Homo sapiens: one gene and its partner. The protein of the gene in region 1 interacts with the protein of each later gene in a biochemical or structural test. Each region holds a gene or a part of one and is shown on either strand. Other genes may lie near its edges.

Region 1 (3,870 bases):
TGCAAGGAAGAACCTACCCAAGAATGAAGCCACCGGAAGAAGCCCAGCTCACACAGGCAGAATCTTGACACTATCATTTGGAAACCCCTGGATTCAACCAGACCTGAAGCCCTGGGCCTCTCTGTCAGATAAGCCAATACACATCCTTTTCTGCTTAGGATATTGTGGGTTATATTACATTATGGTGACCTGCATCTGAAGAGCCATGACTTGTAACAGGAGCAAGCAAAGCCTAAGAACCTTTCCTCCTTTTTTCAAGCTGAAGGTACCAGGGGTCTCTGTAGCAGGCCTAGTGGCTCCAGGAGGATCCCAGGCCCAGAGAAGGCTGAGTACCACCTTCAGGAAAGAGAGGCCCCTTACCTGTGCTGGTTTGGCCATGGTCTCCGGTTCGCAGCAGAATCCACTGTAGAGAAGAAAGACAGCATGTGAGATTCCCCCCAACTCTAACCATCCCCTTTCTTTCCCTTACATTTCCTCCCTCTGCTGTTTTCCAGCTGCCCCCAGCCCTTCAGGTTAAATCAGACCCAATGACCCAGCTCAAGGCCAATCACATTTTTTTCAGAAGACAATGGACAGACTAGATGGTGTCCAGACATTCACAGCAGTATGGGAAAGGGACGCGGATCCCCAAGGGAGGGCGGGCATGGCACTGACCCACCACTGACCCCTTGACTCCTCCACACTAGGCAGGGTACCTGTCTCAGCACCGTCTCAGTTACTACTCTCAGAAATCCTTCCACACATCAGATTCTCCTTTTTTATAGAGAGGAAACTGAGGCTGGAGCATCGCAATAAATGAGCCAAGATCACACAGCTTAGAACTGAATTCAACAATTTCTAGATCCCAGAGTCTATACTATCTGCACCATGCATGCCCCCTTTTCAAGTCAACAAGGATGGCTTCAGAACCCAGAGCTTGACCGCCTGCAGATAGGACTCAAAGTGCTTCCAACCACCTGCTGCAATATCTGAAGGACTGTCATTCCTGAACAAGTGAGTATGCACTCATTTAGCGCCTATCCTAGTCAGGCATTGCTCTGGGCACTGTGCATGCAGAAATATGAGCAATTTTTTAAATTCTGTTTCTCTAGAGCTTATGCTGTAATGGGAATGAATAACAAATGCACTCATCAGGCTGAGATAAGAACTACAGAGAAAAGACAAGGCTTGGTCAGGAAAGTGACAAGGGGTGTAGTCCCAGGTGGAGGGGTCAGAGGATCTCACGAGTGTGACTGGGGCACACCGCGGGGTGGTGCAAGTGAGGAACCACCACGAGCTCAGTGTGGCTGGTGTGGTAGCAGGGAGTGGTGTGGTAGGATGTAGGATCTGAGACCGGTGCCTGAGGCCACTGTAAAGACTGGATTTTTCAGGCTGGTCGTGGTAGCTCATGCCTATAATTCTGGCACTTTGGGAAGCTGAGGTGGGAGGATAATTTGAGCCCAGGAGTTCGAGACCAGCCTAGGTAACATAGTGAGACCCGATCTCTATTAAAAAAAAATAAAAAAAAAATAGCTGGACATGGTGGCACATGCCTATAGTCCCAGCTACTTGGGAGGCTGAGGCGAGAGGATTGCTTGAACTCAGGAGGTGGAGGCTGCAGTGAGCCAAGGTTGCACCACTGCACTCCAGCCTGGGTGACAGGGCAAGCCCTGTCTCAAAAAAAAAAAAAAAAAAAAAAAGACAGGAACACACAGGAAAACAGGACACATATCTCATTGAAAATGGATAAGGAATGCGGGTGGAGGATATCAGGAGACAGGGTCTACAGTGAAGGAACAAAGATATGATACGTAAAAATAAATGCAAAAAGAGATGTAACTGATTTGGGAAGTATAAGAGAAGCAGGTAGGGAGCTGGCTAATGAGCACTCAGGAGGGCAACAGATGAAAGTTTAACAATCTTCTTAAGAGAAGGAGAAGAGAAACAAAGGACCACTACTTTCCACTTTAAGCAGGTCTGGGCAATTTGATCTCTTTTTTTTGAGATGGAGTCTCGCTCTGTTACCCAGGCTGGAGTGCAGTGGCGCAATCTCAGCTCCCTGCAACCTCCACCTCCCGGGTTCAAGCGATTCTCCTGCCTCAGCCTCCTGAGTAGCTGGGATTACAGGTGCACGGCACCACACCTGGCTAATTTTCGTATTTTTAGTAGAGATGGGTTTCACCATGTTGGCCAGGCTGGTCTCGAACTCCTGCCCTTGTGATCTGCCCTCCTCAGTCTCTCAAAGTGCTGGGATTATAGGCGTGAGCCACCAAGCCTGGCCTGATCTCTTTTAACAATGTCTATGTATTGCTTTTTAAAAGTGAACATAACAGAGGCCAGGAGCAGTGGCTCATGCCTGTAATCCCAGCACTTTGGGAGGCCAAGCGGCAAGGACCACCTGGGGCCAGAAGTTTGAGACCAGCCTGGCCAACATGCGAAACCCCGTCTCTACGAAAAAATACAAAAATTAGCCAGGTGTGATGGTGTGTGCCTGTAGTCCCAGCTAGTCAGGAGGCCGAGGCAGGTGAATCGCTTGAGCTGGGAGGCAGAGGTTGCAGTGAGCAGAGATGGCACCACTGCACTCCAGGCTAGGCAACAGAGTGAGACTCTGACTCAAAAAAAAAAAAAAAAGTAAACATAACAAAGTCAATCAGATTTACCCAGTAAGACCTAAAAGGAACAGAACTAGGAGAGTAGAAATCATGGAGACATTTCAGCTCAATGCCTTCCAGTTCTCCACATATTCCCTGTTCCCCCAAGACTTAGGGAAAATCTTAGCCATGTGACCGTGGGCTTATTGCTCATTTTTGAGTTCAAGGTGATCTCAAGCACAAAACTGAAGCTTTCCCTTTTCTGCTTTGTAGGGTTGTTGGAGGATAAGACCTAAGTTATGTCAAAGGCAGCACATAAGAGGCCAGGCACAAGACCTGTTCTTAGTAAATGGTGATATTTACTGTGCTGGTGGGAAGTTGAGGACAGGGCCTCTGTCGTGTTTGCCTCTGTGTCTTCACTGGCTGATTATGAGTTCCCCAAGCTGCAGTCAGCTGAGGACAGTCATCATATGGGGTTGGGAGTGGAAGGCAGAGGACGGATCTGCCTGCAAATGCAGCTCAGCTCAGCTCAGCTTCAGGAAACCTTGCTGTTTCCCTGGCAACCAGGGGCCCCTTGGTACAACTGTGCAGCTCTCACCAGGAAATGGAAACTGTACCCCCTTTCCAGTGTGTGGTGGGGGGAGGAGGGGGCCCACATCTACCCCGGGATGAGGCTGGAGGCCAGCTCTCGGTTTCCTCTGACCTGGGGGATAGTAGGGGGAGACAGTGAAGGAAGCCCAAGGCTAGCAGAGAACCAGGGACTGAATGAGACCCAGGAAGTTAGTTGACACAGACAGAGGGAGGGCTGAGGCCTGTCACCTGCATCTCCAGCCTTGAAGCACTTTCCTCTGGGCTTGTTGCTGGCAATTTCAGCTGCTGGCTGCAGCCCAGGCCCATCTGGAGGAGCTCCCCTTTCCAAGGAGAGATGGCTTCAAGGAGGGGCCTCTTACTGTTTGGGAAAATATTCTCAGCTCTGAGAGCAGTTTCTGTGTGCCTTGTGTGAGTGCACAGTTCATATGTAAAAAGCAAGCTCCTTCCAGAACTAGATGTTCAGACTGCAGTTCTGAGGGCCAGTCCCCCTGCTGATTCCACAGCCCCGCCTCTGAGGGTTCTGGGAAGCTCCTGAGCTAATCATAAACACACCATTTACCCTGGCTTTAAGATGGCTTCTGATCCCTCCCAGAGCAACCTAGACCATACTGCTCAAATTGGCTGAATATTTTACATCTAGTGTTTCTGAATCCCACAAGGGCCCTTAATAATCCATGACTCCAAGTCCCTCATTTTCTAGACGGGGTAA
Region 2 (3,870 bases), about 64 Mb from region 1:
CAGGGGTCTCAATGGAAAGCCTGAAATTCATTCTTTTTTCTCCTAGCACTATCAAACTACTGGATTTGTAGTTAATTTTTTAGCCTTTTAGGAACTATTTTCTGCTTAGCGTCTCAGCTACACAGCCAGCTTAGGAACTGGCAACTGCCTTGAACGGAAAAGATGTGGAGAATGTCGGGTTAATTATAGTATGATCTTGGCTCCTCAAATCTTAGCTGCTTTGGTTGTTCTCCAGTGCTTTCAAACAGTTGTTTTTCTGTTTTGTATTACTATTTTAAGTTTTATCCAACTAGGGTGGTTAGTCTGATACAGGCAACATTTAGGATTAGAAGTTTCCAATTCCTATTTTCCATGATTACTTTTAAGACATTCTCAAAGCATGAAAATATAGTCTTTATCTTTAATAAGTGTTAAGCTTGTCCTCTGTGTATTTTTGCTATGGCCTCCTAACATTAGCATGATATAAAATCTTTAAAGCAGGAAACAGAAGTAACATTTATTGAGTTCCAAAAACATGCAGGCCCTTAATAAAGATTTTACCAATATTTTCAAGTCTAGTTGGAAAGATAGCACATTTCCAAAATGATATAAATTATTACCTAATATTGTACTTACATATCAAATGATTTGAAATAATACTAAAGGAAGACAAGAACATTTGTTGTACACAACTGTTCACTTAAACTCTAGAACAAGCATATGTATGAAGAGATGATGTTTCCATTTTAACAGGTGAAGAAAAATGATCAGTTTAGAAAAATTTGAAAATACAGAATCACCTACAATCTCCTTAGAGATAATTACTTAGAACATTTTTGGTCTAAGAACATTTCTAGTCTTTTTCCAGTGCATATAAAGCTTTTCAAATTAGCTGTGTGCAGTTCTAGCAGTTCAGCTTCAATCTGTTTGTAACTTTATTTCTAATGTATTTTACAATTAATTGAAATTTCTTTAGTTTACACTTTGAAATACTGATAACATTTTAATAGTGCTGACATAAAGTTTTCTAAAATATATATAGCTGACTTTTTTTTAGTAATGATCTGGTACAATGGAGTATTATTTCTTTAAGAATTATAATTTTATGTTAATTATTTATTGTGAGTGTTTTGGAAGCTGGTATAAATATTTTGCTACTTTTTATTAAGCTTCCTAATAATTTTTGTTTTTATTTTAAAGGCCAAACTGTTTTCAGATAGTAGTTCAGCACTTTAGTGAAGAACATTACATCTTTTACTTTGCAGGAGAAACTCCAGAACAAGCAGAGGTAAGATTACTGTTTCTCAAACTACAGTATACTTTTATGTTAGCCCATGTTTTCTTATTAACTGGAATAGAAAATGATCGCATTCAAGATAAAGTGACAGAACGCCTGAAATCTAATCATCTCTTATTTTAAGGAATGAGATTTCATATGTAAAAAGTTTTCTGAAAGAAATGCAAAAACAAACACAGTGAAGGGTTATTAGGAATGAAAACTCCATTTTAAATTGACCTTTAAATACTCTATGATGTTGAGGCCAACTGAGAATGCTCATTTAAAATCCTCTCTGCATAAAGGTTATAGGTCATCTCAGTATAATCCAAAGGTAAGCCAGTTAACCAGTTAGTTTTGCTAACAAGCATTATTCTTCACTGGTTGAACTCCATGTCTGAAAATAAAAGTCAGTCAACACAAGGAAAGATATTTTAGGAATCTATTCTCTAAGCCAAGTCGAGATATAATGTCTACTTTAGATTAGCTATTAATCCATGTGCAGTGTCCTTCTTATAGCGTCTATTAAGTAATTGTGTGAAGAAATAATATTTTTTAAAAAACACTCTTTAAAAAATATTTTGCAACAAAGGGAGAACCCACCTCTATAACAAAAGTAAAAAATTAGCTAGGTGTTCTGGCTTATGCCTGTAGTCCCAGCCACTGGGTAGAATGAGGCAGGAAGATTGCATTAGCACAGGAGTTTGAGTTACAGTGAGTAAGATCGAGACACTGTAAGCCAGCCTAGGCAACAAACTGAGACACTGTCTCTTAAAAAATTTTTTTGCTTTCTTTGAACCCTAATATTTCTGGAGTATATGGTTGTATTTTATACAAATACAGCTAAATTTCTGCTTATATTCTAACGAAGGAACTTAAAGGTGGTTAAGAAGTGAAAGTGGCTTTGTTGGAAATATAATTTGCCAACCCTAGATATGAGGAAGATGCTCTTAAAACTAGATCCTAGCGTGAGACTCACAGAATAAACCTGAATGAGCTTACAACTGAACGTCATATTTCACATCTTTATCAAATATCTCATTTAATGCTCATTTCACATGTAATGCACATAAAATTTTACGGCTATGTATCCCTAATTTTTAGATGAGAAAGGTAGTGCTCAAAACATTTTGGTAACTTACATGATTTTTTTAAATGTTAGAAATTGAGTTAGAAATTTAAACTTCAGTATCCTATTTTCTAAGTATTTTACCATGGTCCCTCTTTCTGAATAAAATGTCACATACCATAATGACATTTCAGCATGTTTTGCAAGCCTAACATAGAACATTTTTTAATGTATTTATACATAATATTTCTGTATTTCCATAAATGGTATTTCCAGTTTTTGTTGATTTATTGGGCTGTGGGGGTCTCTGGTTATTCTCTTCTATTTCAAAAAGCTATGGTAACTGATTTGGTTTTAATTTGCTGTAATATAAAGACAGTCTCTAGATATTAATAAAGTTCAGCTTCATTGAAATAGCCAACAAACTAAAGACATAATTGAATAAAGCAATAGTACACAGCTTTCCAGAAATATGTAAAAACCAAAGTGAATATTTAGATTTGTTTTTAATAAACCTTAGTTCTCTCCTTTTCCCCAAAGCACTAGATAAACATTTTAAAAATATGGCTGCAATTTGATTTGAATATTAGGCTAAAATGATTTTTAAAATCTAATGTTATATTTGAGAAGCTTAAAAATAACCCAAATCCCCTTATACATTTCTACCTGTATCATGGTCTAAAGTATAGATTAATATGCTTGTCATGGGATCGGTCATCACATTATCAGTTGGTTTTACAATCAGCACTCTCCCCCTCTCACAAAGTGTATCAAGTTAAATTCCACCTAAGCTTGCCTCAAGTATAACAGCTTAATTATACAGTTAATTTCCCCAAGGTAGTATCTGTTTGGGAGAAATAGTTTCTTTAATGTAAATTTGATTTTTTGGCTAATTAATGGCCACTCGATGTGTTTCATACATAAATTCAAACAAAGATTTATACAGAATTACAATTGTTTTGGTTGTTTTATTATTGTTATTGTTATGTTATTGTTATTTTATTATTGGTTATTGTTATGAAGTACAGTATAGTCTGAGAATAGAAATGGCAGTCTAGAGAAGGAAAAAATTGTTGAATTTGAAAAAAAAAACCTAACTGATGATTTGGAAGCCAAATAAACTAGTGTATATTTCTTTGAAGTGCTGTTTTTCTTTGCAGGATTGGATGAAAGGTCTGCAGGCATTTTGCAATTTACGGAAAAGTAGTCCAGGGACATCCAATAAACGCCTTCGTCAGGTGAAGCTTAATTTTCTTGGATTTTTAATTGTCACATTTTGCTCTAACACTTTGCTCTTTTTATTTTATTTTTATCTGAACTGTTTTGGACATCATATGGGGTTAAGCCATGCTGCCACTTGCTTCAGTAGCAGGAAAACGTTACTTCTTTATGAAAGAGAATGTTCTTTCTTAGTCCATGCCAACTGTTAAAAACATAAGAAAGATTATTCTTCCACTTTAAATAACAACACTAAACCAACACAGCAGAAACGGTTCTGTTGGGCACTTAATTTTCCTTCAAAAACTTATTTTGGCCTCTTTCAAAA

Evidence for each region. The genes of interacting proteins can lie anywhere in the genome.
Region 2: the proteins of ANXA6 (region 1) and RASA1 form a complex in vitro, tested with the Homo sapiens proteins (one study listed by BioGRID).

The regions. Positions count from the first base shown.
Region 1 is NC_000005.10:151,147,524-151,151,393, forward strand, and holds part of ANXA6 (annexin A6), read right to left. Parts: intron 404-3,870; 5' UTR 379-403; coding exon 361-378; intron 1-360. UniProt on the Homo sapiens protein: May associate with CD21. May regulate the release of Ca(2+) from intracellular stores.
Region 2 is NC_000005.10:87,368,634-87,372,503, forward strand, and holds part of RASA1 (ras GTPase-activating protein 1), read left to right. Parts: intron 1-1,179; coding exon 1,180-1,267; intron 1,268-3,484; coding exon 3,485-3,562; intron 3,563-3,870. UniProt on the Homo sapiens protein: Inhibitory regulator of the Ras-cyclic AMP pathway. Stimulates the GTPase of normal but not oncogenic Ras p21; this stimulation may be further increased in the presence of NCK1.